Linked DNA regions of Homo sapiens: region 2 is linked to region 1. Evidence: fine-mapped expression QTL. A gene starts in region 1. The other region holds a variant in brackets. All regions are shown on one strand. Distances are from middle to middle.

Region 1 (15,586 bases):
TAGTTGCTCAAGAAAAGCAGTTGGCCAGGAGCAGTGACTCACGCCTGTCATCCTAGCACTTTGGGAGGACAAGGTGGGTAGATTGCTTGAGCTCAGGAGTTCGAGACTAGCCTGGGCAATATGGTGAAATCCCATTTCTACAAAAAATACAAAAATTAGCTGGGTGTGGTGGCTCATGCCTGTAGTCCCAGCTACTTGGGGGGCTGAGGCAGGAGAATAGCTTGAACCCGGGAGGTGGAGGTTGCAGTGAGACAAGATTGCATCACTGCACTCCAGTGAAACCCTGTCTCCAAAAAAAAAAAAAGAAAAAAAACCAGTTATTTGTGGTACTAAATTTCTGCAGGCTCTTGTTAAGAGAACACAATGTGATAAGTTAGCACGTTCTCAGATGCATCTCCACAGTAAAAACAGTCAGTCAGGGGTTTCTGAGGCTGCGTCTCCTACCATCCCTAGACTTAGGGTATTTGTGTGATCCTAAACAGCAGTTTGGTAAAAGTAATCATAGGAGGAATCAAAAGAAGACTATCCAAAAAAAAAAAAAAGACTTCTCACAATTTTTTTTAATCTAAAGATAAAAATTAGAACACCCAAATACAGTGCAGATTTCAGGAAATCTTCCCTAAGTGTTACTTCTTGCGACTCAGCATTTCTGAAAATATCCAAAAAGCAGAGTCGTGTCAACGATTTAGAGCATATTCATTTGCATTAGCAGTCATGGGAACTAGGAATGGGGTTAACGCTGTGTTATAAAAATTAAGGAAACAGAGGAAATATTTGTGGGGTAAGCCAAGATTTTCCTTAGACAGCAATTTTGGATCTATTCCAATAGAAATATGAGGGCAATGTGACTCCAAAGGTTTTTGCCGTTGAACACAACTTGGGAATGCTTTAGCCCAGAAAATCTATGAAGCAGCTGTTAGCAAATACCTACCTAATACAGTCATTTTAATCAGAAAAAAAACCTCATAAAATATCTAACCTCAAAAAATGAAACTTGTGACATCTATAAGATAAACTATTGTAAAACTAACGCCTCCTAGACGGTAAGCAATTTGATCTACGGTGCAGCACAGATAGCCCAAAAGTTGGTTAAGCGCCGCAGACTGTCTCAACGATAACAGTTTTAACAATTTTAGTTCTGCTGCAGCTGATCTGAGGCCACCAATATTTCTGTCAGTAATTCAATCAGAAGCCACTTGGCTATTTAACTTCCTTCCCTCCTTAACCCAAAAACGTATACAACAAAGTTCATTCATTTTTTCCCCATTCTGTCTTTCATAAGAGAGGTGACAGAATCCCACGTCCAGTTCATCCAAAGATAGTATCAAGTTATTGAAAGGCAACTTAAAATAAGGAAGAAGGAAGGTACAGAACATATTTATGTTTTGTGTACTTTCTCACCTTTCAAAAAAGTGATCATTTTTGTGAGTTCTAATTCTCACATTGGCTTTGAGTATCAGTTCTGTGTAAGCATAAGTAGCCAAAAAATAAAGATGAATTCATGTAATTGCCCACAATAGATATATTTGAGGAATTTTCAAGAAAAGATGCAAATATGCAATGAGATGTTGTTTCTGATGAAATTCTTCACAAGGTGATAAAATATATAATCCTATTCAGTAGAGAAAAGTTTGCTTGAAGTCTGTTCTTTCTTTGCCTAAAGTCTGGTCTGGAAATCCTGAAATGATAATCAGAAGGAAAATGCTTTTTAAATGGAATAATTTGTAACCTAGTACTAGATTGATGATTTTGAGGAAGTGAAAAGTTGTCCTTTTTTTTTTTTTTTTTGAGACGGAGTCTCACTTTGTCACCCAGTCTAGAATGCAGCTGTGTGATCTTGGCTCACTGCAAGCTCTGCCTCCCGGGTTCACACCATTCTCCTGCCTCAGCCTCCTGAGTAGCTGGGACTACAGGTGCCTGCCACCAGGCCCGGCTAATTTTTTTTATATTTTTAGTAAAGACGGGGTTTCACCATGTTAGCCAGGATGGTCTCGATCTCCTGACCTCGTGATCCACCTGCCTCAGCCTCCCAAAGTGCTGGGATTACAGGCGTGAGCCACTGCACCCAGCCAAAAGTTGTCCTTTTAAAAAATGAGATAGAGCAGATTCTGATGCCCATCTGATAGCTCCATCACTATAGAAATATTTAGGGCAACAGATTGGCGAGGCTGTGTCCTTCAAGCAGACTGACCCTTGAAGAGTTCTGAAAGGCACACAACAGGAAGTGCCCTGGATCTAAATGATGGTGACCACCGGTCTCACTGCATAGTTTGGGATCTACTAAAGTTATTCAGTGTGCTTGGCTCTATATCACTTTGATGTTTTTCTCCATATACTCGGTCGTTGGCTTTCTTAGTTCATTTTACATTTACTGAGTACTCCTTAGACGCTGTGGGTACCAGAATGAATGAGCCACAAATGTCGACCTTAACAAGATCATAGTCTGTGCTTCCTATTGATGGTCCAAGATGTTCTCATCAAGAAAAACAGCCCTCTTTGTTTTGTCTGTGTTATAGCTGAGAATACTGTACTGAACTAGGAGATGTTTTTCTCTTGGGAATGATCATGTCTCACAGTATAACTAGCACAGAATTACATTAACAAGTTTACTCAACAATAAGAACCATATTTACCATTTATTCAGTGGTTGTTATGAGATGCTGGTAAACTTACTCTCTCGGAGTTTCTGTTACTTCACTTGGTACAGCTTAACTTTCCAGTTTCCCTGCATCACAGCACAGCTTCCTGTAACAGTTTGTTACTTCTGGTTCTTTGCCAGTCCAGCACTTTTCAACTTAATGTTTCACTCTTGCAATAACTTCCTATCTGACCTTTCTTCTCTCTCCAACCTATCACATATAGTGTCAATGGACTAGTACTCTGATTTCATCCTGCCATTAACCTGATCAGAAAATTCCAGAGATTGCCCATTTCCTGTAAACTCTTATGACTAGACAGAAACTCACCCCACACTATGCCTCCCCTTACTTACCCAATCTCACCTCTTATTACACCAAGTTAGTTGTACCTCAAACATCTTGAGCTTTCTTGACTCTGTATTTGCTCCTGCATTTCTTCCTGTTGGAAAGTCTTTCCCTCCTACCTTCATCCTCCCACTTCAAGTTCAGCTTAAATTCAGCTCCTTTCTTCTGAAGCCTTCCCCAACTGCTATTGCTCACATCAATTTTCTGAAATGAGTGTCTACTGTCAGTATAGTTCTTCAGGACTTAATCCCATACTGACTTGGATTGTTATTTAACTGATTCCCCTCTGCAACTTCTTTTTCTAACTAGATTTTAAACTACCCAGGGAAAAGAGGCTCACCTTAAAAGTTGCCTTTGCGTCTCCTCCTAGTTTTAGGCAGTTGTTATGCATACATTTGATGCTCAACACATGTAAGAAATAAGTGTGGATTGAATGAATTACCACTGGCTCCAAGCATTTTTTTCCCTTTCCTTTATAGCTGGTGCCTGCCTTCTTAAGTCCTTAAGTTCTGTATTTAGCCATCTCAATGTTTTTCAAACCTTTCTAACCATAACCAATAGGAGGAAATTGCTTTTATATTGTGACCTGATGTACATGTGTATGAAAAATTCACAAAACAATACGTGTAAGTACTTACTCTGTGTCATGTATTCTGCTGTTTTCTATTCTATTTTTTAAAATACAGATCATGACACACTAAACTGATTTCACCACCAGGTGGTTATACTTACAGTATTGTTGGGGCTCAGAAATCAACATCCCAAGTATAGTGTTTTGACATGCTGAACTGAAGAAGCCGCAAAATCTCTCTGGCCTCCCCTCTTTGCTCCACCATCTCTCCCAAAGCACAAGATGAAGTTGAAGTTCCTTTATCTGCCCAAGATCTAGACCCATCAAAAGGAATAATTGTTTTTCCTTCCCTTCCTGTAAGACCAAGAATGTAATCACACCTAATAGACCCTTTGACAAAATAACATACAAGTTAATTAATCTCTGTTCCCTGATCCATTCATCTTCCCTAGTAACTTCCTCAACAGAATTCCTCTTCTCCCCACTCCCATAACCTGTTTTGCCAGGATGGTATATTAGCTTGTCAACCACTTAGGGGGTTGGCAATCACTCTATGATTCTCCCCATGTGCACACTGTGTGCACATTAAGTTTATATGCCTTTTCTCTAATCTGCCTTTTTCAAGTTGATTTTTCTTCAAATCTTCAGAGGGCCAAGGGGAGAGCTTTCCCTTGACCCCTGCAGTATAAAAACGCTCTCCTATCTTATGCTCCTTGTAAGAACATGAGGTGTATAGTACTGCTCTTAAAAAAATGCTTAAAATGGCCGGGCACGGTGGCTAACGCCTGTAATCCCAGCACTGTGGGAGGCCGTGGCAGGTGGATCACGAGGCCAAGAGATCAAGACCATCCTGGACAACATGCTGAAACCCCATCTCTACTAAAAATACAAAAATTAGCTGGGCATGGTGGCGCACCTGCAGTCCCAGCTACTCGGCTACTCGGGAGGCTGAGGCAGAAGAATCGCTTGAACCCAGGAGACGAAGGGTGCAGTGAGCCGAGATCAGGCCACTCCACTCCAGCCTGCCGACAGAGTGAGACTCCGTCTCCAAAAAAAAAAAAAAAAAAAAAAAAAAAAGGCTTAAAACACTACCTGGGCTGCTCATTCTGTTCCTGACAGTTTGAGCTTCAATTTGATCTTTACATAGTTACCCTGAGATTACTTCTTACCATATTCCACCAGAGCACTAGGAATCAAGCCCTTCCTTCTCCCAACTTCTTCCTTTTGAAATTTGGGGCACAATTAAATAATGATACACAAAGTATTCTCCAGATCGCTATTTCTTATGTTATCTTGAAAAATTTTAGCGGCATATAAATAAAAATTTCCAGGCCTAATTTGTAATCAAACCATTTGCAGATGAATAAAAGTAGGCATGGCCATATTTTTATTTTTGGACGTAGCTTAAGAACATGAGCACTATTGCCTGACAATCCAGAATCTGAATCCTAGCTTTGCCAAATTAGTGTGAGCCTCCATTTCTGCATCTATACAAAACGGGAATAATACCTACTTCAAGGGATTGATTGGAGTTAAATTACAGCATACAAGTAAAGAACTTGATACAGGACCTGGGTGCTCCATGAATGGACACAGTGCTCCATGAATGGCAGTAAGGTTTTGTCACTAAATATATCTCAAAACTTCCTTTTAGGGTCATAAAGTAAGGTTTAGCCACAAGAATAAAAGTAAGATGACTTTTCAAATATCTAGCTATTTTTTGAAGTTGGATGATTTATAATATAAAATTCCATGTTGGTTTTACAGATCATAAATATCCCCAAAGAAAGATTCTATTTGTGGTGCTGGATAAGCATTATATAGTAAGAAATGTCTACTGAAACTAGAAGATTGAGGATGCATATTCAACGACCTGCCTAGTCATGCTAATCTCATTTAGATTTGTTCTTGCTTAATTTTTTTTTTTTTTTTTTTTTTTTGAGACGGAGTCTCCTTCTGCCGCCCAGGCTGGAGTGCAGTGGCGCCATCTCGGCTCACTGCAAGCTCTGCCTCCCGGGTTCACGTCATTCTCCTGCCTCAGCCTCCCGAGTAGCTGGGACTACAGGCGACCGCCACCACGCTCGGCTAATGTTTTGTATTTTTTAGTAGAGATGGGGTTTCGCCATGTTAGCCAGGAAGGTCTCGATCTCCTGACCTCGTGATCCACCCGCCTCGGCCTCCCAAAGTGCTGGGATTACATGGGATTACAGGCGTGAGCCACCGCGCCCGGCCGCTTAATTTTTTTTTTTTTAACCACAAACGTCTGTCGGTGAAGTGTGCTTTAATTCAGCAAAAATACAGCATTCAATACATATACATAACACAATATGTATACGGGGCTGCTTTTAAACAACGCCAAACCTTTAAGTCAAAGCCTTGTTCCAGTTGCTTGTATATTCCTTCTGAGCTTGTCATCCACACACTTTTTTAACCTAGGTCAAGTTACTGCTACGGGTGTTTTTGATTGCAGAAGTTTGGCAGTTAGCAGTAAAGAACTACCTTTTTATACAAATTATCTTCCCCTGAACCTGTCCAATTTAGCACACGGCAAGACAGAATATCTCATCCATTCGCCTAGAAACACGGGTCCAGGCTGTACCAGGCTCAGGGGACTTGCAACGCTTTCGAATCACTTAATGGGTGTGATCAAGATTTCCCTAGCCCCGTCTCAGCCATTTGCTAAAGAAGAGGCCTGACTTGTGTTGAGACGAAAGCTCTTACAGCTTGATGGAACCCAAACTGGGACTTCTGGGGGGATTAACTTTCAGTCACATACGTTCAGGACTGTGCGTATGCGTGTCGGGAGACGCGTGAACCAAAGAAGCCACAGAGCCCGAAAAAGACCTGCAACAGGAGGTAGAGACCGAGGAATCGGCCCCAAGCTGCAGACTCCGGAGATGGCCAGACCCACAGACACGACTTAATCCCACTCCCAGAACGGGGAGGAGGGTGGCAGTGGACAGAAACAGCGTTCGAGAACCCGGCACCTTTCCACGCTCGCTTCTTCCCGGACCCACAACACAGAAACCCCCCAACTCGGAACGGCGGCGGGGCGCGCCAGGCCCCCCTCGGTCCGCGCACCCCCTTTCGTCACGTCCGGGGGCGGGCCGGGGCGCCGGGGGCGGTCCCGGGTGGAGCCGGGGGGCCGGGCGGGGCGGGGCGGGGGTGGGGTTGCGGGGGTGCTTTGGGTGACAACGGTCAATAATGAAGGTGGCTGCGGCGCGGCGGCAGGCTCAGCTGCGCCGGGCGGGGGCGGCGCCGGGGCCGCGCCTGTAGGACTCGGGGCCGACGCCGCGGGATGGGGACGCGGCGCGGGGAGTGAGGCAGTGGCGGCGGCGGCGGTAAGCGGAACTTCGGCCCGAGGGGCTCGCCCGCTCCCGCCTCTGTCTTGTCGGCCTCCACCTGCAGCCCCGCGGCCCCCGCGCCCCGCGGGACCCGGACGGCGACGACGGGGGAATGTGGCGCTGGATCCGGCAGCAGCTGGTAGGTGCCCCCGCCCCTCCACCTCCATTCGTCCGCCCCCGCGGGGCCTCTCGGCCCGGGGTGGCGGGGAAAGGCCGGCGGCGCGGAGCCGGGAGGCCAGGGCGTGGGCGCCCGGCTAGGCCGCAGCGGAGACGGGCGCGGGGCCCAGAGCCGGAGAAGCCCCGTGCGGCTCCCGGGCTCGTCTCGCCTCCAAGCCCGGGCCGCCGAGGCTGGCGCCGAGCGGCCGGAGGCGGCCGCTTCTAGCCGGCGCTTCTCCGTTACTTCTTCCCCCTTGCCGCTCCGGGGCTGCTGTGGCCAGAGGCGGGAGTCCCGAGCGGGGTGGCGGTGCCCCCAGAGGAAACAGGGCGAGGGAGCTGAGCGAGAGTAGGTCTTGGGGAGATGAGAGAGGCGTGCTCTTCCTGCCTCGAACAATTTGGGACGTGTTTGGGTGAAGGGGAAGCGAAGAACCTGTCTTCTGCCCCCACTCGTCACGGACTTCTGGAAGCGTGTCACGATCCAGAGCTGTGTTGATTCCCGAGGAGGAGGCTGTCGTAGGTGTCTAGCCCCCTCAGCGAGAGACGTTTCTCCCCAGGACCTGGAAAGGGGAAAGACTGTGCCAGCTGCCGGTCTAGCTTCGGAAACGATACGTATTGTACGATAGTTACGAACGATACGTACTGTCGTTTCCTTCCTACCTCGTCCTCACCCCACCCCGAGTGAAACTTTTCGAGTGTGAACCTTACTTTTTTCCCGTTCTCCTCAAGGCAGTTTGAACGACACAGGTTTGGAAGGAATAGTTAACTCTCCAGTATTATTGGAACATCTGGACACCACCAACAAAAAATCTTAGAAAAGGGTCATTTAAGGCCTATAAAAAGTGCCACCTTTCCCAGAATTAATTCAGAGAGAAAAATCTTATCTGCCTCCTGGCAGCTACAGCGCAGAAAGTACAGCATTAAGGCAGCTGTGACAATTAGGACAGAAATTGCCCCTGGCTGAAGAAGCCTAACCTTATCTGTGTGATGAGGCCGGTTACTATTTAATTTCTAAATCGCATTAACTTAATGCTTCTACAAGTTGGCGTTTTCATTTACTAATTCTAAAGGCAGTGGTAAAATTTAGTGAAACAGGAACTATTTTTGTGGGACGAAAGCACTGATAACTCTTTTTCCCTTCTGCTCTAGAAAAGCATTTTAACGTTAAGACCAAGAAGTGTGGTGTTTCAGAGCCAGCCTTCTGTTACTTCGTTTTGCAGCGGGCATCATTCTCAAAAAAAAAAAAAAATTATAAATAAGAACTGCCTACCACTCCCTCCTACAAATGTTGGGTCTCTGTTTTTAGCATTGTAAATTCAGATATCCCAGATATATGCTTTATTAGGAAACCAAGCTAATGATGTCATTATAATACCATCTTGTAATACTTTGGCTTTGTTGCAGTAAGCTGTAGCACAGTAATTTTACTCAGAAAGTTAATTATTACAGATTTGATCTTATGCTTTTGATTTGCCAAATCTTCTTGTATAGAGGGCTGATTTACCTGATGGTGTTTTTGTGTGGTAGGAAGATCATTTTAAAGTGGTTCTCTTGAAGCTTTTTTAAAAATGTATTGAGACATCCTTTCTCACTGTTAGGTATTTTTTAGCCAGAATAAAATCCTGGTTGTATAACCATGCTCATCTTCAAGACAGAAAACCTGGTAATGTTTTTTAAAATGGCTTCAAATGAACCCAGCTAAAAGGAAGGGCCGGAAGTTGTGTGTGGTTATTTTACAAGGCAGCCGTCTTAACAGGGATGGTTAACGAGTTGAACAAGTTCCTGTGCATAAAAAATGCTATCTCTGACATTTAGTTGCTCACCTCACTGGTTTTAAGTTATCAGATCCTCTAAGTATGTAATCATACTTGGGCCAATGTAGGACTTTGTGTCTCTGGTTAAGTTTGTATGATCACATAAATTAAACATCAAGGACCCTGGATACAGAGTAATGAAAGTATATTTTGCTATCCCAGTCATAGACAGCTATTCTGATTACTGCACCAGAAATTATTCAACTCAGGTAAAAGCTAGTTTAGATTATACTTCCAGTGGCTTAATGGATTGAATCACCACGACTTTCAGCAATGGGTTTATTTTAAAATGCAGATAACTAGGACAAATTTGGGGAAATTGACAAGCAAATCCTAAGGACAGGTTGGAGTTATAAGCATATTTAATTCGTTATATGAATCCCGATTTTCAACTAATGTCTCACAAAAAAGTCCTTTTATTACAGAAACAATGCCTATGTTCTAGTAATTTCTTTTTAATTAAAAAAAAGTGTGACTCCTTATGACAAAATATTTTCACTACTTGAGAAGATGGAAAAATCAGAAAGTTGACAGAAGCTTGATCTTTTCTATTGGGAAAGTAGGCTGAAAATAAAAAGATTGGAATATCCTTTTTTGTTTTTCTTTTTGGCACACAATGTTAAAGTTACTTGACACTAAGAAAATTCTCTTATGGTGTCTTTGTGGTACAGTTAGTATTATTCAAAGTATACTCATTTTCAGTACCATATTTTATGTATTAACTCATTAGAGATGACAATACCTTGATTATAATTATGGAAATGCCATTAGCTACTCACTGTATTCTAATATTTAGACCTGTACGGTAGCCATTAGCCACAAGTGGCCATTAAAATTAAAATTGGAGCCATATGTGGGTATTAAAATTAAAATTTGAATTCATGTGTCTATTGGCTGCCATTGGCTGCCATATTGGACAGTTCATATTTTCATTATCACAGAAAATTCTATTGGACAGCACCAATTTAGACTTTTAAATGAAAGTCTGTGTCAGTACATATTTGAATGTAATACTACATTTTTAAAGCACTTGCTGTGTGCTGGTATTAACAGATGCTGAATACCAGGGATACAAATGTTGGTCAGGGTCACACATACTCTACATAAGTAGACATTGGATACATGTTGCTGAACAAATAATTAATAGATGAGGAAAGAAAGAATGAATCTGTAGTGTTGTTTCTGTGTTTAGAGACAAAAATGACCAAATTTAAGATTGACTAGCCCAGAAAAAAGTTAGAAAATGAGTAATTACACAAAAACAGTATTACTAGGATAACTGTTTCTTAAACTGTTCCATAAATGTAATCCCTTTAGATTGTATTGGCGATGGTGGTAGGAGGCTGCTAAGATTGTCTTCTGATTAACTGAGAAAAATGAGAAGGTCTTAATCTGAACTCCCTCAACTTTCTGTTCTTCCTCACACTCACCGAACTTGCTTATATTTTATACTGGTACTTAATTCTTCCCTTCACAGTCACAAGGAAGATGCAACCCTCTTTTCCAAGATAACAATTCCACTTAAGCTTTTGATCCTTTTCTTTCATTCTGCTGTCCATACTCCATCAGTTATCATTAGTATGTTTCTTTTCTTTCTCTTTACTTTTTCTCTTAACTTGTGAACATGTTCAAGCCTCTCTGCTACTTTTTCCTGTACCTGTAACTGGCAAATTCTTTTTAATTTTCTGAAAAACAGATCTATAAAACTGTGCTGGCTGATGTATTTGGAATGTGGCTAGTTTGAGTAGAGTTATTCTTACGTATAAAATACACATTGGATTTCAAAAACAGTATTAAAAAATGTAAAACCTGGCCGGGCAAGGTGGCTCATTCCTGTAATCCCAGTACTTTGGGAGGCCGAGACAGGCAGATCACCTGAGGTCAGGAGTTCGAGACCAGCCTGGCCAACATGGTGAAACCTCATCTCTACTAAAAATCCGAAAATTTGCCTGGCGTGGTGATGGGCACCTGTAATCCCAGCTACTCAGGAGGCTGAAGCAGCAGAATCACTTGAACGTGGGAGGCAAAGGTTGCAGTAAGCCAAGATCATGCCACTGGACTCTAGCCTGGGTGACAGAGGGAGACTCTGTCTCAAAAAAGAAAAAAGAAAAAAGAAAAAAGAACTCTCATTTTTTTGTTAGTTACATGTTGAGATATTATAATATTTTACATATATAGGTAAAGTAAAATAAATTTTTGGAATTTTGTTTCTTTTTACTTTTTTTAAAGTGGTTAGAAATTTTAAAGTTACCTACGTGACTTGCATCTGTTGCTCATGTTCTATTTCTATTAGTGCTGCTGTATAACATTAAAAGTGAATTCCTGTATCCTGGTAAGAATAGTGAGATCCTGTCTCTAGGAAAGAAAAAAAAATTAGCTGGGCATTGTGGTACTGACTTGTAGTCTCAGCTGCTTGGAAGGTTAGGGTGGGAAGGTCACTTGACCCAAGTAGTTTGAGGCTGCAGTGAGCCATGATCATGCCACCACACTCTAGCCTGGGTGACAGAGTGAGACCGTCTGAAAAGAATAGTGAGCTCCTGTTTTTACAGAACACATTGTGGAAGTCTAGATATCTCACTTACTAGACTAGACTGTAAATATCTTAGGATAAGAACCATATCTTACTTGTATTTATATTCCTTACACTCAAGACAGCAGTTGGCCCATTGTAGGTATTCACCTGCCAAATGTTGGTTGAATAAATGAATGAGTATCAGATCTAATTCAGCATCAGTTTGAAAATACCTGCATTCTCTGCCTCTTTTCCAAGGAATGAATGAAGGAATAGAAAAAGGAAGCACTGGCCTAGGGTGGTATTTTTTTTGTGGATAAGTTTTAACCTCAAGAATTAATGTTTAAGAACCTAGATCTGTGAGTATGTGCTGCTTTATCTCTATTTTCAGACATATATTCTTAGATACGCAGTTTTGCATTTGGTTAGGAAGAGGATAAAGCATTAGAGGAAACTCAGGTATTCCCAGCAACACTGAAGTAGGGACCTTGCTCCAGATCCTCTAAAGAGCCTTATGATTACCATTATTGTCATTAAATGTTTTCTAGACCTGTGCTATTCAACATGGTATCCACATATGGCTGTCGAAATGTAGGCACTTGAAGTGTGTCTACTCTGAATTGAGATGTGTGTGAATGAAATATGCAGTGGATCTTGAAGACTTAGTTTGGAAAAAGGATGTAAAATATCTCATTCATTTTCTAATTGATTACATGTTGAAATTATATTGGGTTATATAAATATACATGTATTTGGTTAAATATTAAATGCTACTTGTTTATTTTTACCTTTTTTTAAATGTGGAAACTAAGAAAATTAACATATGTGGCTTAGGCCATATTTCTGTTCTACAGCATTGTTTTAGATTATGGTAACAATATATAATGCCTGGCATAGGCAGATTCAAGAAAGTTTTTGATTCTAAGGACTTTATGACTTTACCCAGGCTTTTTTTCTGTGAGTTTTCTATTTTCAGAGTGTTGGTCTGCATTATATCTAAGAGACTAGAAGCTGCCTGATAGACTAACTGCATCTGGTCCCTTGGAAATAATTTATCAAGTCAACATCGACTGCTGTGGGGTTCTAGATTTAGCCATGCTGTTTATTCTTCATTTTGTTTCTGCAGTTGTCTGAGTGCTGATCTTTCTTTCTTTCTTTTTTTTTTTTTTTTGGAGACAGTTTCGCTCTTTCGCCCAGGCGGAGTGCAGTTGCGCGATCTCAGCTCACTGCAAGTTCGCCTCCTGGGTTCCCACCATTCTCCTGCCTCAGCCTCCGGAGTAGCTGGGACTACAGGCGCCCACCACCACGCCCAGCTAATTTTTTGTATTTTTAGTAGAGATGGGGTTTCTCCGTGTTACCAGGATGGTCTCGATCTCCTGACCTCATGATCCGCCCGCCTCGGCCTCCGGAAGTGCTGGGATTACAGGCGTCAGCCACCATGCCCGGCCCGAGTGCTGATCATTCTAAGCAAGATAATATTCATAATTAGCTTAGTTTTTACTAGAAATGTGCATTTTTATTGTTTAATTTTAATTTTTTTATTCTCAAAAGGAAGTAAACGTGTATTTTTTAAAAAATATCAAAATGAAACTCAAGATTTGAGTTTATAAACATAGTTGAAAGATTTTATTCTCAGATATTCTTTATTTTGCTTTTTTTCCTGGAGTTTCTCTGTTATAAAATTTAGTATAAGAAAAACATTCTAGGCCAGGTGTGGTGGCTCAAACCTGTAACCTCGGCACTTTGGGAGACACACAGGAGGATTGCTTTGGGCCAGGAGTTTAAGGCCAGATTGGGCAACATAGTGAGACCCTGTGTCTACAAAAATTAAAAATTAGCTGGGCATGGCGGTGCCTGCCTTTAGTCCCAGCTACTTGGGAGACTGAGGCAGGAGTATTGCTTGAACACAGGAGTTCAAGGCGGCAGTGAGCTATGATTGTGCCAGTACATTCCAGCCTGGATGACAGAGTAAGACCCTGTCTCTAAAAAATAAAAATTAAAAAAAAGAAAGAAACAAAAACATTCTTGATTGGATATTTATATGGGAAATACTATGAGACTTATTTTTAAGCCAATACTTCAAGTTAGAAATTATATATATAATTTTTTTTTTGAGATAAGGCCTCACTTTGTCTCCCAGGCTGTACTGCAGTGATGTGATCACAGCTCACTGCAACCCCAAACTCCTGGGCTCAAATGATCCTCCTGCCTCAGCCTCCTGAGTAGCTAAGACTTCAGGCATTTGCCACCACACCCAGCTAATTAAAAAAAAAAAAAAATTGTAGAGGTGGGGGTCTCACTATGTTTCCCAGGCTGGTCTCAGACTCCTGGACTCAAGCGATCCTCCTGTCTCAGCCTCCCAAAGTGCTGAGATTACAGGTGTGAGCCACTGTGCCCAGACGATGTTTGTATTTAATTTTTTTGCATATATGGTTATAATGCATTCAGTAAACATTCACCTGTATTGTGAATGACATGCATTGAATTTCTGTTACTTCTCAGCACTTGGGAATGGCTCTGAGGGAACTGTTTGACTCTTGGGTGTGCTTAGGAGAAAACTAGAACACAAATTTTTTTGCTGACTGGCTCACTTAAAATTGTACAATTTTTAATTTTCGTATTTTCTTATCCTATACATGGTATTGGCAAATTCTTTTGATTTTTTTTTTTTTTTAAGACAGTCTCGCTTTGTCACCCAGGCTAGAGTGCAGTGGCGCGATCTCCGCTCACTGCAACCTCCGCCCCCCACCCCCCCCAGCCCCGCCCAGATTCAGGTGATTCTCCTGCCTCAGCCTCCTGAGTAGCTGGGATTACAGGCACGTCCCACCATGCCCAACGGATTTTTTCGTATTGTTAGTAGAGACAGGGTTTCGCCATGTTGGCCAGGCCAGTCTCGAACCCTGGACCTCAGATGATCAATCCACTTCGGCCTCCCAGAGTGCTGGGATTACAGGTGTGACCCATCCCACCAGGCCTTCCTTTGAAATTTTTAGCATGTAGTTTATCCTCCTTAACATTAAGTTATGGCTTATGCAGATAATCATACTTGTTTCTCTTTAAAACTATTAGATTGTCCAAAATTTAGATGAAATACCAAATTAAGGATATTAATTAGTTAAGCTGTGTCTGTCTCCACATTTTAATTGGAAGTGAAGTTCCCCCTCAGGAAAGGAGGAAGAATAGGATGATATGCATAGGTATCAATCATTCATTCATTCACGTACATTTTGGAAAAGTTAGGAACAGAAACAGATGTTGTATATATGTAGCTTATTCTTACTGTGTGAAGCCGGTAAAGCTGGTACAGGTTATTTTTATTCTTTCTTTAAGCATTATGTTATAGAAAATTTCAATCACCTGCAAAAGTAGAGATAATGGTATAATGAGCCCCTTTATGGTATAAAGTTGGGCAAATGGTATAATTTATCCTTTACCCAACTTTTACAGTTATCGGCACATGACCAATCTTGTTTTATCTATTCCCCCCACCCACTATCCTCACTCCCTTTAGTGATTTTGAAGCAAATCCCAGACATTATATAATTTTACCCATAAATATTTCTGTATTTATCTCCAAAATCGCTTCTTCCTTTCCTTCCATTCTCAAATTCTTATTTTTACAAGTGTAGAAATTTTATTTTATGTCAGTTACATCAGTGATTATTAATATAAGTTAATGTAAAACTCTCCCCTTAACTCTTGATTTAATTCAGTTATATTAATAATAAAAGGTACATGCATAATATGTATTGCTAATAAATTTACTAAGAATCTGTCAAATTCTAAGCAGGAGATGTAGTTCTTTAAAAGTCAACTGCTCTTTTTCTATGGATACCTCTGTGGGGAGAAGAAATCAAAGAAAGACACATGAATCAAAAAATGCTTTGCTTCAAAACATCATGTTGTGCACCATAAATATACAGAATTTTTGTCAATTTTTTAAAAAATGCATTTTAAAAAGTGTTTTACTTATAACATGAATACATCTAAGTGTTTGGGGAGCAAATCGTATCTCCCTTTTTGTTGTTGCTAAAAATGATATATCCAGAACCATTTCTCTCGTCTTTCTCTGCCACCACCCTCAACTAAACTACTGCTACCTCTTACCTAGATTATTGCAAAAGCTTCCTAGTTCATCTCATTGTTTCTCCCCTTCTGTCCTTGCAGTCTGTTTTCAATATACCCACCAGAGTGATCTTATTAAACAG
Region 2 (15,586 bases), 74 kb after region 1:
TCTGATTCCCAATTCTTTATGTATGATCTGTTGTTTTATCTCTGGAAGCTTTAGGATCTCCTTATGCAATAGTTCTGAAATTCATGATGGTGTACCTTGGTGTTCGTTTTTCCTTTTTTATTTTTTGTTTCATGGGCAATTAACTCTGTGAGTCTTTTCATCCTGGAAATACATGTCTTTCAATTCTAGGAAATTTTCTTGTACTATTGTTTTGATAACATGTCTTTCTATGTTTCTCTTGTTTTGAAACTTACTATTTGCATGTCCTACCACTTATATTGACCCTTTAATTCTCTGACTTCAATTTTCAGTTTTTATTTATTTGTTTTTATATTCTACTTTCTGGTAGAATGCCTCTGATTTATCTTTTCAGTATCTTTTGATTTATTTCTGCTATAATATTTTTAATTTCTAATATTTTGGTATTCTCTGGATAGTTTTTTAAAATTGCCTCTTATCCCATTTCTTGAACATAATCTATTCTTTTACCTCCCCGAGGATATTAATGACAGTCAATTGAAGTCTTCTTCTGCTCCCTCTATTATCTTTGCTTGTAGTGCATTTTCCAGAACAGCCAGTTCTGCTATAATGTGATATATGCGTTCCTAAAATTCACTGCATAATGCAAAATTGCCTAGTAAAAGCCACAGGGTTTATGAGAGAATGGGATTAGGGGTACAACACAAAAACAATAATACTTTTTTTTTTTTTTTTTGAGACGGAGTTTTGCTCTTGTTGCCCAGGCTGGAGTGCAATGGCGCAATCTTGGCTCACTGCAACCTCCGCCTCCTGGGTTCAAGCAATTCTTCTACCTCAGCCTCCCGAGTAGCTGGGATTACAGGCATGTGCCACCACGCCCGGCTAATTTTGTATTTTTAGTAGAAACGTGGTTTCTCCATATTGGTCAGGCTGGTCTCAAACTCCCGACCTCAGGTGATCCTCCCACCTTGGCCTCCCAAAGTGCTGGGATTACAGGTGTGAGCCACTGTGCCCAGCCTAATAATACATTTTTTAAAAGATAGGAACCTAATAAAAACAGCACTTGCCAAATTGTTCATGAATACACAAATGCTTCAATAAATACGGCACTTACCTGGACCTGAAGTTTGCCTGTGGAAGATAGGCATCAGAAGGGTTGCAACTTAAGTGTTACTGTGAAGTGTGAAAGGGAAGGTTATCTGAAATCAGAGGGAAGGTTGTAATACCAGATGTGGATGAGTGTGACTCATAACACATGGTGAACTGAGATAGCTAGTAACTGAGTTTTGGGCAAAATTTGCACAAAGTTTTGATTATGCTCAAATTGTCTCTTATTGTATCAGTTGCATTGGGATAAATTTGTGTTTTCAAGACAGTGTTACAACAGAACTGATTATAATTTGTTTCAGATTCTACCTTTTATGTAAGGAGTGATCCTCAAATGGATGCTAATCTTTGGCTATCATTTCAAATTTAAAAGTACTCTACCCAGGAGGCTGAGGTGAGAGGATGACTTGAGCCCAGGAAATCGAGGCTGCAGTGAACCCTGGTCACACCACTGCACTCCAGCCTGGGCAACAGAGTGAGACCCTGTCTCAAAAAAAAAAAAAAATGAAAGGCTGGGCTCAGTGGCTCATGCCTGTAATCCCAGCACTTTGGGAGGCCAAGGTGGGTAGATCACTTGAGCCCAGGAGTTCAAGACCAGCCTGGAGAACATGGCAAAACCCCATCTCTACAAAAAAATACAAAAACAAAAAATACAAATACTAGCTGGAATACAAAAATTAGCTGGGCGCAGTGGTGTGTGCCTGTGGTCCCAGCTACCTGGGAGGCTAAGGTAGGAGAATCACTTGAGCCCAGGAGATGGAGGTTGCAGTGAGCCCAGATTGTGCCATTGCACTCCAACCTGGGTGACAAGAGTGAAACCCTGTCTAAAAAAAAAAAACAAAAAAAACCTCAGGCACTAATATGCTTATCAGAAGCTATTGATTCAGTGGGCCACACCTTAAGGTAATGAGCTGACAGGCCCAGCAGGTAATATTTCTGCTGCTTATGGCTGCTAGAGCTGGCCATTGGATACCTGTTTTTAGTGCACTGCCTCCCTTCTGTGTTCAGCTGTCTGCGGAGACCAGATTCTGTCCAGTTCAGCCTACTAGGGGAATACACCTTCCAGCTGTTGCTCCAATAAATGAGGGGCGTTCTGAAGTTTGCAACTTTTAAAGAGATTTCAGAATTTAAACTACTCCTGATAGCTTGTATTTTCAGCCTCATCCTGTACTCCCACATTCAGGGGTAGCTGGTAGGTCTACTTCCTGAGCGTTTCTGAGAATGGGTTTTCTCATCACTTGGGTTTCAGATTCTAAGTTCTGGTACATCAGTTACCACTCATTCATCTCCTTTTCCATCTTCCAAACTTGTGTCAATCTTCCCTCTCATGCTGACTTTTTTACCATTATTTTTGTTCTTTTTCTGTTTTTTTTTTTATCCTCATGGTGAAGTTTTAAGAGAACCAGAGATAATTAAATGTGCTCAACCTGTCATGTTTAACCACAAGTTGATCCATTTATTTATTTATTTATTTATTTTTGAGACAGAGTCTCACTCTGTCTCCCAGGCTGGAGTGCAGTGGTGCAATCTCGGCTCACTGCAAGCTCCGCCTCCTGGGTTCACGCCATTCTCCTGCCTCAGCCTCTCCGAGTAGTTGGGACTACAGGCACCCGCCACCACACCTGGCTAATTTTTTGTATTTTTAGTAGAGATGGGGTTTCACCGTGGTCTCGATCTCCTGACCTCGTGATCCACCCGCCTCGGCCTCCCAAAGTGCTGGGATTACAAGCATGAGCCACCGCGCCTGGCCAATCCATTTATTTTTAGTAACATTTAGGAGGCCTTAATAATTTATGTTAAATATTAATTCATGTCACATTTCTTTAATTACATATTATATATGTAAGGCCTAAAGGCCCATTTTTACTTTTCTGAATAAATTTTTCCAATCTGCCTTTGACCTTTCTTTCTCAACTCTCTTCCCCTCCTTTTTTCTTCATGATAGAATTTTTGTTTTCCTGGAACCTCACATTGTGTATGCATACTCATGTCTGCTTTGTCTTTAAGAAACTTCTGGTGATTATTTCTTTAATTACTGATTTTCTCAGCCTCTCTTTTTGCTTTTGAAACTACAAGTATTTAATGTATGTTTACTGCCTCTATTCCTATTTTGTCTTTTACCAATGAAATCTACTTTATTTCATATTCTTCTGTGCTCTTTCATTTCCATATTATCCAAAAAACAACTCTTAGGAAGGTTTACAGTGATGACCTGTTTATCATGAAAGTTAAAAGATTAAACTTCTTGATTTTATATATATATATATACTTTTAAATCAAAGTTAATTTATTTTATCCATCCCTACCATCTAATCTTTTTTCTAAAGAATCCTCCATGACTGATAGTGCAGTCTGTATTCTAGTAACCTCTGAGTATTATTTCTGTTTGATTGCTAATGTATCTTATATATTTTCTGTATAACTCATCCCTCATTCTTCCTGATCTACATGTGTGGGCTTTTTTTAATTAACTTGCATGGGGTCTTTAAATTCCAGTTCAACATTGCTATAAATACTGGGCAACATTTAATATCAAATAGTAAAGATAAAGTATTCTATCTCTTATTTCCAGTTTCACCATTTATTTGCTTTTTGACTTTAGGTAAGTTAAGTAATTTTTTGCCAAATTTAACCCTACCTTTCTTTTTGGATATCGATCTTTTTATCCTGGAATTGTGCTGAACTTATATATTCTATTTTTTTTAGTCAGTTTTTTAGAATTTTCTGTATACAAGGTCATATCATGTGCAAATGGAGATAGTTTTACCTCTTGTTTTCCAATCATGTTAACTTTTATTTCCCTTTTCTTGCCTAATTGTCATGGCTAGAACCTTAAGTACAATGTTGAGTAAAAGTGACAAAAGCAGTCTTATTCCTGATCTTAGGAAGACAGCATTCAGTCTCTCTCCATAAGGTACGATGTTAACTGTGAGTTTTTTATAGATACCCTTTATCAGGCTGAGGAAGTTCCTTTTTATTCCAGTTTGTTGAACGCCTTTATCATGAAGGGTATTGGATTTTTATCAAATGCTTTTTCTGTACCTATTTTGGTGGTTATTTTATCAATAAAATGAAGGCCAGGTACCATTTTATTAATATGATGGATTACATTAATTTTTTTAAGTGTTGAGTCAATCTTGCAATTCTGGGATAAATCCCACATATTTGTAGTATATAACCCTTTTTATATGTTTCTGGATTTGATTTGCATCTCTTTATAAGGGATGTTGATCTGTAGCTTCTTTTCTTGTGATTTCTACATCCCTTTTTAAAGGACTTCTTTCTCAAGTCATTATTGCAGTAATCAGATTTTCATGATGATCCTGGTTGGATCAAGACTTGACTATTACATCCTTCTTTTTTCATGGACATACTTTCTTTTAAAGTACTTTTTCTGGAATTAGTCTCCAAAAGTAATAAAATAATTTGTCTTACTTACTTTTAAAAATATGTTTTTTTCTTTTAAACATCGATTTTTTTCACTAAATTTGTTTTCTGTCCTCAGTTTCAACTTCTCTCTGTTTTAGACAATTCGCACCTCTAACTTCTTGTGTTGCTGTCACTATCACTGTGTATTCCTATTCCTAGCTCTGCACTATTTCTCCTCACTCGGATACCCTTTCCCATTCTACATTATTAAGCATCCTTTCCACCCTGCTTTAGAGATAATTCTTAGAGTCCTACTACTTAAAATACCTTAGCCAAGAAAAAGAAAAGAAGCATTAATACCAAATTCTCGTCAATTCTACAGATAAACATGTACGTAAAGATGCCACAAACTTCAAAATCTATGTAGCTTTAAACTATTTTGTGTTACCCTGTTTTCTTTCCTTGGCATCTATATTTATTTAATTGTGCTTGGATTATAAGAATCTCAGCATCCATATATCAATATTAATAGATAAACTGGACTTCAGGAGAGCGAGGACAGAGATTTTTTTCTTGTTTAACATAGGACCATGAACACAAAGGTTTATTTTCTTTTGTTTTCTATCTCTATAGGTAGAGTACGTGTTTACAGATAAAACTGGTACACTGACAGAAAATGAGATGCAGTTTCGGGAATGTTCAATTAATGGCATGAAATACCAAGAAATTAATGGTAGACTTGTACCCGAAGGACCAACACCAGACTCTTCAGAAGGAAACTTATCTTATCTTAGTAGTTTATCCCATCTTAACAACTTATCCCATCTTACAACCAGTTCCTCTTTCAGAACCAGTCCTGAAAATGAAACTGAACTAGTAAGTAATTTTTAAATTAATAAATAAGGGTTTCATATGAAATAATTCTCTTCAGTAGTTGATGAGTTGCAGGAAAAAAAGTTTGTGTCAGTAGAGCAAGGAATATACATTTGAAATTCATATATTTGATTCAACAATATAAAATATAATCCTAAGAATTTGTTGTTACAGCCCAGTTTAACTTGTTATTTAATACGTGTCTGCCTTAGCTCTTTGAGTATTTAAATGGAACGTAGTTAAGAAAAGCCCTTACTGCCTTGAAGTGAAGAAGACTTTCTTTGAAAAATAGAGCTTAAATTTATTTAATACTTTTTGAGACCTCACTTCTTCTATAAAAAAGTGTTCCCCTCTACTTGCAATGTGGTTGTACCTCCTAAAAAGATGCTCACGTGTTGAAGGGTCCTAAGCAAATGTGACATTTTACTTTTTGAAGGCAGAAACAACCAACTGTTATTCAGGCAATCAAGGTTGTAGCACTCTTGTTCTAGATCTTAGAATTTTGCCTCTGGTTTCCTAAATGGTATGTGGAAATGATATTTTTATCATGAATATTAATTACATTTTTACAGATTAAAGAACATGATCTCTTCTTTAAAGCAGTCAGTCTCTGTCACACTGTACAGATTAGCAATGTTCAAACTGACTGCACTGGTGATGGTCCCTGGCAATCCAACCTGGCACCATCGCAGTTGGAGTACTATGCATCTTCACCAGATGAAAAGGCTCTAGTAGAAGCTGCTGCAAGGTAATTTAGTCTGATTTCCAAATCTTCGGAAAAACACCATTTAAATAAATGTAACAATATTAGAATCATCATTTAAAATTTTCAAACATAAATTCGTCATTTTAAGTTGTCAGAATTCATATAAATACATAAAAATAGAAGTACAATTTAAATTTTAAATGACAATTTGAAGTCATTTTATTATCAAGCTTGCATTGAGTCTTTTTTTAAGATCTCTTTGAAAATCTGATTACTATAAAAATCTGTGTAATAGAATTTATTAAAAATGCTTGTGCATATGTTGTACTACACCTACTCTGATCCTTCTAATCCTTCTAGTCCTTAAAAGTATATATATATGTTTGTGTATGTGTATATATATTTATATATTTTTATATACATTTTATAAAAATATGTAAGTAATAAATAAAAATTATTATATATAACATATATAAATAAAAATATATATTAAAAAGAATATATAAGAATATATATAAAATATATATATATTTTTTTTTCTTTTTTTGAGATGGAATCTCACTCTGTCACCCAGGCTGGAGTGCAGTGGTGTGATCTCAGCTCAATGCAGCCTCTGGGGTTCAAGCCATTCTCCTGACCCAGACACCTGAGTAGCTGGGACTGACTACAGGCACAGGGCACCACACCTGGCTAATTTTTGTATTTTTAGTAGAGATTGGGTTTCGCCATGTTAGCCAGACTGGTCTTGAACTCCTACCCTCAGGTGATCAACCCGCTTTGGCCTCCTGAAGTGCTGGGATGACAGGCATGAGCCACCACTCCTGGCACCAAAGTTGTAATATTAAAAGGAAATATTTTTAAATGCATTTTGAACTTTGATTTTAAATGTTTTTATTCAAGTTAAGCTATAGTGACATTGTGAAATATGCAGTATTATTTCTTAAGTCTCACTTTTTTATCCTTTTGATGTCTAGGATTGGTATTGTGTTTATTGGCAATTCTGAAGAAACTATGGAGGTTAAAACTCTTGGAAAACTGGAACGGTAATTTTTTTTCATATATTGGAATGTTTTCTGTGTTAAGTGTATATAGTATAGAATAAGGATCAGTAAACTGTAGCTCACAGGGCAAATGTGGCCTATATTTTCTGTTTTTCTACAGCCCACAAGTCACATTACTTTTTTTTTTTTTTTTTTTTTTGAGACAGAATCTTGCTCTGTCACCCAGGCTGGAGTGCAGTGGCACAATCTTGGCTCACTGCAGCCTCCACCTCCCAGGTTCAAGTGATGCTTGTGCCTCAGCCTCCCAGGTAGCTGGGATTACAGGCATGCGCCACTATGCCTGGCTAATTTTTGTATTTTTAGTGGAAATGTTGACCAGGCTGGTCTGAAACTCCTAGCCTCAAGAGATCCACCCACCTTGGCCTCCCAAAATGCAGGGATTACAGGTGTGATCCACTGTGCCTGGCCCACATTACATTTTTAAAGGGTTGTTTTAAAAAGAGGTAAAATATGCAACAGAGACCATGTATGGCCTGCAAAGCCTGAAATATTTACTCTCTGGCCCTTTACAGAAAAAGTTACTGAACTCTGCTCTAGAATGATGTTAACATTATATTGTATCTCATCATAGTTATAACAATAGTATGCTTTGAATATTTCATCTATATTTTAACTTAATGATTCTTGAATTTACTTGTATGTTTATTTTTAGATGCTTCTGGGTAGTGAGTTTTATAGGTTCTTCTCACTGAATAAAGAAAACTTTCCTTGTATTTCCTGTGATTTTTATCTTTCAAACATGAAGGAACAGCTGTCTATATCTAGTTTTTCCATTCTTTGATAAATTAGTTCATGCTTAATATACTTACTCCTTTCATGGTTTTAGCAATTCTGATCATATGTCAATTCCAGCTGTGCTTTTCCAAACTATGCTTTTCCATACTAGATAGGGCCCATTCTTTGGCTACTTTCATGTGAGAGCCTGTCTAGCTTATTTTATCAACTTATAAACCATTATTCAACTCACTGTTTTTCTTGGAGATGTGTAAAGATTTCATATGTAAATCACTGTGTAAGATTCATCTGGAAGACTTTAAGCCACACCTCATGTAGCCACACAAATTCTTTTACAGCTCCCTAGAGAGGCACGAGGGAATGGACCCCCGCACACACACACCCAGGTTCACAGTCACTGCTATAATGAGCCTTTGATATTAATGTGTGTTGTGTTTGTCAGGTGTATTAGGACAGAAAAAAGCGTTGAGAATCAGTTACCTTTTTTAGTCAGAAAAACATGGAGCTGGGCAGATCTGGATTCCAGTTCTTGCTCTGCCACTCACAAGCTTACCTGACTTTAGGCAAATTACTTAATCTTTCTGAGGTTAATAGTCCTCATCTATAAAAATGAGATAAGACCTACTTTCTTGGCCTCTCATGGATATTAAATGACATAAGGTGTGTAAAATACATGGCATTTGGTAATTACTCAATGTCAGTCTCTTCTATTTCTTCCCTGTTTTGTTATTAATGGCATGTAACCTATCATCATGAAAATGGTATTAATTCTTGTTCTCAATTAGCCATTTTATCTTATATATGGATTATTTCCATATAGTCACTTAATATTATTTTAAAAAAAGTAAAGTTTTTGTCTTTCTTACTTTCTTTTGTTTAGGTACAAACTGCTTCATATTCTGGAATTTGATTCAGATCGTAGGAGAATGAGTGTAATTGTTCAGGCACCTTCAGGTAACCAATCTAAACTTTCATGAATTTTTATTTATGTAATATTAAGAGTCTGATAACTCATTTTTTTTGTCTCTAGGTGAGAAGTTATTATTTGCTAAAGGAGCTGAGTCATCAATTCTCCCTAAATGTATAGGTGGAGAAATAGAAAAAACCAGAATTCATGTAGATGAATTTGCTTTGGTGAGTGCAAATTTCTATGATTTAAAAAACTCTAAAAGATATATTTATGAAATATTTTGGACTTTATTTCTTATAATTTATCAAAAATTGTGGACATTCTGCAGTTGTGTTACACTGTGTGTTGGCTCCACATTCCTTTTGTGAAAACTGACTTTTAACGCAAGCAAAAATATATCTTCTCTTCAAACCTACTCTACAGTCGGGGCATTTCTGGTTACAAGGTCTACTCAAACTATGCTATTTTAGAAGAGTGTTTATTAAACAAACATAGGGGAATCCTAATGATGTGGAGAAACTGGAACCCTTATACACATATTGCTGGTAAGATTATAAATGGTACAGCCACATTGAAAAATAATTTGGCTAAGTTCCTCAAAAGGTAAACATTGAGTTACTATATGACACAGCAGTTCTACTCCTGGGTGGACACCCAAGACAGCTGAAAACATGTTCACAAAAAAATCTTATACACGAAATGTTCATAAGCAGCATTATTTCCAATAGCCACAAAAATGGAAAACCCCAAATGTCCAGCTAACAAGTGGA[T/C]AGGCAAAATGTGGTATATCCATATAATGGAATATCAGTCAGCTGTTAAGAGGAATGAAGTACCAATATATGCTACAACATGGACGAATCTTGAAAAGAGTGTGCTGAGTGAAAGAGGCAGTCAAAAAAGGCCTTATATTAATACTACATTTATATGAAATATCCAGAATAGGCAAATTCACAGAGAAAGCTCATTAATGATTGCCAGGGGCTGGAGGAAGGGGAAAAAGGAGAGTCCTCGTGGGAGCAATGAGATATTGTGGATTTAGATAGTGGTGATAATTGCACAACTCTGTGAATATGCGATATAACACTGATTTGTACTGTTTGAAGAGGTGAATTATATCTCTCATTTACAAAATTTAAAAATATAGGGGAATCTTGTTAAAACAAAGAGCCATCATTCATGTAAATGGCAAAATTATTATGCAGTTCTCTCTCAGTCTTAGAACTTCATGATCTCTCATTTTTGCATTTCTGTGAATGTGTGCTCCACACTCACCTCTGCTCATCTGCCTTCTTTAACAGTTTATGATTTTTTTCCCATTATTTGTTTCCTAATTGTTTATGTTCCAGTTTACCCACCACATCGTAACATCTGTGAGAACAAAGACATTGTTCTACCTTATCACCATTTTAATATTTAAAATAATGCTGGCACATAGTTTGTGCTCAGTAAGTATTTGTTATAGAATGAATTAATTCATATATTAATAACAGATGGTTTTTTAACTATTAATTAAAAGAAGCACATTTATAGGTATGGGTCATTTATAAGTCAGGGAATGGCAATATTTAGAAATCTGCTAAATAGGGCTGGGCGCGGTGGCTCACACCTGTAATCCCAGCACTTTGGGAGGCCGAGGCTAGCAGATCACGAGGTCAGGAGATTGAGACCATCCTGGCTAACAGGATGAAACCCCACCAGTAGTCCCAGCTACTCGGGAGGCTGAGGCAGGAGAATCACTTGAACATAGGAGGCGGAGCTTGCAGTGAGCCAAGATCGCACCACTGCACTCCAGCCTGGGCAACAGAGCAAGTCTCCGTCTGAAAAAAAAAAAAAAAAAGAAATCTGCTAAATAATGTTATATAGTATTTTTAAGTCTACGCTTTCCAAGTTGTTATTAGGATATTTATTATGGGGCTCAGCACAGTGGCTCATGCCTGTAATCCCAGCACTTTGGGATGCTGAGGCAGTATCACTTGTGGCCAGGAGTTTGAGACCAGCCTGGGCAATGTAGCAAGACCCCATCTCTACAAAAAAATAAAACATAGCCAAGCGTGGTGGCACATGTCTGTAGACCTAGCTACTCAGGAGGCTGAGGCAGCAGGATCACTTGAGCCCAGGAGTTCAAGGCTATAGTAAGCCAAGATCACACCACTGCACTCCAGCCTGAGCAACAGAGCAAGACCCTGTCTCTAAAAATAAAAAAGAATATTTATTATTGGTTTTCTTGAGGAAAATGCATGTAGCAAGAAAAGGAACTTTTATAAGTCTTTAGATTTAGATATCAACTTTCAGAGATGAATACTATAAGAAAACTTTGGCCCTAGTAGAACCAGATAATCAATTCTGATTCCAATTCACTGGTGAAGATATATTACTTAAAATCATTTATTTGGTAAATCTAAAAAGTATTTTTTATAATGGCCATTTTATTGACTTATTTGAAAGGTAAATTTTGTCATGCAATGAATCTTTAGGAAATTATGGTCTCCTTTGCTTTAGAAAATTGTACGAAGTAGGTAAAAAATGGAATTGTAAGTTAAAACAGGAAGGTAGAACCTGCAGCTGTCTCTCTCTCTTGACAGTCTTGAAGGTATTAAGAACTTTCTGGCTTTCCATGTAACACAGTTTAAAAACCACTAATAGGATAGTCTTTATGATCTATTCTAGGCTCTAATATTCTACAATTCAGTGACCTTAATTATTTTGAGCAACTTTTTTTTTTTTTTGAGACAGAGTCTCGCTCTTTCGCCCAGGCTGGAGTGCAGTGATGCTATTTCGGCTCACTGCAAGCTCCACCTCCCGGGTTCACGCCATTCTCCTGCCTCAGCTTCCTGAGTAGCTGGGACTACAGGTGCCCGCCACTATGCCCGCCCAATTTTTTGTATTTTTAGTAGAGACTGGGTTTCACCATGTTAGCCAGGATGGTCTCGATCTCCTGACCTCATGATCCGCCTGCCTTGGCCTCCCAGAGTGCTGGGATTACAGGCGTGAGCCACCGCACCCAGCCTATTTTGAGCAACTTCTTAAGAAAACATCAGAAGTTGAAAGAGGTATATGTGTCCCATAACTCAGATCAGTAGAGCTTTGTGACATTATTTATTTCCTGTCACTAGGTGATAGTACTTTTTAAATGATTTGTGATTGACTTTTGGTACTAGGTCTTCAGTGTATTTTGATAGTGACTTCTTGATTTTCTGTTTGTTGTTTGTGTTCAATTTTTGTCTTTAATTTTTATTTGTTTGTTTTAGAAAGGGCTAAGAACTCTGTGTATAGCATATAGAAAATTTACATCAAAAGAGTATGAGGAAATAGATAAACGCATATTTGAAGCCAGGACTGCCTTGCAGCAGCGGGAAGAGAAATTGGCAGCTGTTTTCCAGTTCATAGAGAAAGACCTGATATTACTTGGAGCCACAGCAGTAGAAGACAGGTAAGTATCAGATAATTAAAAAATATTACTTTTCTCTCATAGGAATTTTTGTAACCAAGTATTCTAATATGTGACATAAATTCTCTTTACTAACATCCCATGATATATTTAAGATCAAAGTAGAGAACTAAAGCCTTAATTTTTCCCGGTCAGTATGTACAATTTTTGTTCTAGCTAGATACCTGAAATGGATGAAAGAAACTAGCTCTCTATAGTTTTTTCTTATAGGCTTGAATCTTTAGAATACTCCTCAGCATGTCATGCAAACACTTGAAGCACCTGCTTAATTCTCCAGCCTTCCCTCCTACCACTGTCTCCTTCCGCTTTATGTTTCAACAATACCAAACTGTCTCTGCATGCCACCTGTAGCTAAAACTATTCTGTTTTGTGCCTATGTTGGCCTTCTGCCTGGGTGATTCTTCCCTTCACCATCCCTCTGTGACTACCTATTCATAAAGTATAGCTTAGATATTAGCTCCAGTCCAGTAAGACCTTTCCTGACACCTAAGAGGATTAAAAATTCTCTTCTTTGTGAAGTCTCATTGTAGGTAGTTCTGTTGTTGTCTTTGTGGCACTATATTATAATTATTTGTTTAAAGACTTCTCCTCTGTTAACCTGTGAAATCCTTGAAGTCCATTTATTCTTTGTCTTTGTTCCCAGAACCTATCTCAATGTCTGTTTCACAGTTTCTTAAATTTAGCTGAATTCTGAGATTGAATTCTGCAGATTAAGTTTGTTGTTATGTTTGCCTCCACCACCTAGACCTAAGGGTGTTTGCATATTTTTAAAATCTATGTTTTCATTTACTTTTTGGTTGTCCTTACGAGATTTCTGAGACTCACCTAAAGTTAGCTAGACCTTTATTTTCTACAGTCTGATTTTTTAACTATATGAGTGGTTTGAGATATTTTTTTAAATCAAAACAAAAGGAGAAAAATCTTCTTGTTTGAAATGTAAGACTTCGTAATAAAACAGGAGTTTATGAAGAGCACATAGTTTCATCCTATGAATAGCAACTTTGAAGATACATTCTTAAAATATGAAATTGTAGATTTTAATTGGTTGATTTTGTGTTAACCAGACAATTACCAATCTGTTTATTCGTGTTTCCTTCCTAATGAGAGAAAATTCCAGTTATATTGCTATATTGTATAATAACATTCCTAGGTCAAGTCAAAGAGTTTAGAATTATCCTTAAATATACTATGTAGTTTAACTTAAAATACAGTCATAAAAGTATTCTCTACTACTAATTTGTTTCTGTTCTTTTCAGACTACAAGATAAAGTTCGAGAAACTATTGAAGCATTGAGAATGGCTGGTATCAAAGTATGGGTACTTACTGGGGATAAACATGAAACAGCTGTTAGTGTGAGTTTATCATGTGGCCATTTTCATAGAACCATGAACATCCTTGAACTTATAAACCAGAAATCAGACAGCGAGTGTGCTGAACAATTGAGGCAGCTTGCCAGAAGGTAAGAATATAGGAACCTGTATCATACCTTTCAGGGGTTAGCAAACTATGGTTCCCTGGGCCCGATGATATAGCCCACTGTCACTGCCTGTTTTTTACAGCCTATCAGCTAAAAGTAGTTTTTACATTTTTTGATAGATGAAATCCAAAGAAGAAGAATATTTCATGAAGTGAAAAGTATATGAAATTCAAATTCCAGTGTCTATAAAGTTTGATTGGAACACAATCACATTCATTTGTTTACATATTACCAATGAGTGCTTTTACACTACAGCATCAGAATTGAGTAGTTGCAGCAGAGACTTTACAAAATACTCTCTCTTCAGCTTTACACTGCTGTTTGATACTCTACAAATCACAGTGAGATACATATAATGTGATAGTGTTTGGAGTGCCATGCATAGCACCATGTTGCGACATTTTACTGTTTTTTATTAGTATATGGCCATCATGTCAAAACAAGAAAAGAAAAGTGGACTTTTAACATTACGATTTTTTTTGAAGCACTGTGGATAGGGGATTATTTTATTTTTGAGTTAGATGGCAAAGCATTGTTTATTATGCATTGATATGTTAGCTGTGCTACCTGTTTGAAAAGACATTTTCAAAGATGAATTATAAATCTCATTACATACAGTTCTATCGTATGGAAATGTAAAAATCTCGTTACAGATGGACATTAACAGATGAACATTTGCAATGTTAACTTTGAACCCCAATTAAACAAAGTACTATCCCTTGCCCAAAAGAAGTATTTTCATTCTTCTCATTAGTAAACCTCTCTTATTTAAAAAATTATACTCAATGATTACTACATTTTTATCTTAGTGAAAATTTTGTTGAGATTTTTTCCTCTCATTCTGTAACTACCTATATCCTCAATTTTGCCTCTTGGCCCACAAAACCTAAAATTGAAATATTTACTCTCTGGCCCGTAACAGAAAACATTTGCCAACCCCTGATCTAGTTTGCATGACCAAACTGGGAAATTAAGCTGCATTTAATTGTTCAAGATTATTTCATAAGAATTTATACTCTAAATTCTGTCTTTTTTGTAAATCTATCTTTTATAGGCATATCAAATTTTTGCCCTGTATGGGGGCAAATGATGCCCCATTTAACACAGTCTAATTTTTCACAGTAAACTAGGAAGGGCTTCATTTGACCATCAGAGCTGCTTGTATGTAAGCATATTAGGTCTCCTGCAGGTTTCTGTTGTTTGCTGTCTTGTGATACTAATCCAGAAAAATAAATACCAAGAGACAAATACCATAGTTGTTAATATACATTCAGTGTTTTCTATTTATATTTTTTATGCAGGCATTTATGTGATACCAAGTCTGGATTTCATCTTTTTAAAACCTATTTAAGAGATATTTTAAAAAGACCATGCAGGGGATTTTTTGTTGTTGTTGTTTTGTTGTTGTTGTTGTTTGTTTGTTTTTTGAGACAGAGTTTCACTCTTGTTGCCCAGGCTGGAGTGCAATGACGCACTCGGTTCACCACAACCTCCGCCTTCCGGGTTCAAGTGATTCTCCTGCCTCAGCCTCCTGCGTAGCTGGGATTACAGGCATGCACCACCGTGCCCAGCTAATTTTGTATTTTTAGTAAAGACAGGGTTTCTCTGCATTGGTCAGGCTGGTCTCGAACACCTGACCTCAGGTGATCTGCCTGCCTTGGCCTCCCAAAGTGCTGGGATTATAGGTGTGAGCCACCGCACCCGGCCCATATAGGGTCTTCTTAAAATATCTCTTAAATAGGGTCACACTGGATCTTTGAGTGCAAAAAGACAATTAATTTAGGTAATTATACTACAATTTGGGGACAGTGTCAACAACATTGTGGCTATTTAAACGTTTAAATACTGCAATATCATGAACTCCCTAAAACACAGAAATTAATTGCTCAGAATCATTTACTTTATATATGCCTTTTTAAA

What was found.
Region 2: its variant is fine-mapped to the expression of ATP11B in lung (TOPMed, PIP 0.91).

The regions. Positions count from the first base shown.
Region 1 is chr3:182,786,749-182,802,334 of GRCh38, forward strand. It overlaps ATP11B (ATPase phospholipid transporting 11B (putative)), which reads left to right and starts at 6,756. Exons shown (of 30, transcript NM_014616.3): 1 at 6,756-7,038. The coding sequence starts at 7,012. It overlaps ATP11B-DT (ATP11B divergent transcript), which reads right to left and starts at 6,616. Exons shown (of 3, transcript NR_187316.1): 1 at 6,332-6,616; 2 at 1,402-1,678. RefSeq lists a silencer at 6,591-7,340 and enhancers at 12,124-12,624, 12,625-13,125.
Region 2 is chr3:182,860,368-182,875,953 of GRCh38, forward strand. ATP11B (ATPase phospholipid transporting 11B (putative)) reads left to right here. Exons shown (of 30, transcript NM_014616.3): 13 at 5,089-5,331; 14 at 5,901-6,076; 15 at 7,009-7,077; 16 at 8,711-8,784; 17 at 8,861-8,964; 18 at 11,989-12,170; 19 at 13,445-13,648. Among named protein-coding and RNA genes, the nearest start is that of ATP11B, 75 kb to the left of the region's middle. The variant T/C (reference allele first, on the strand shown) is at 9,511.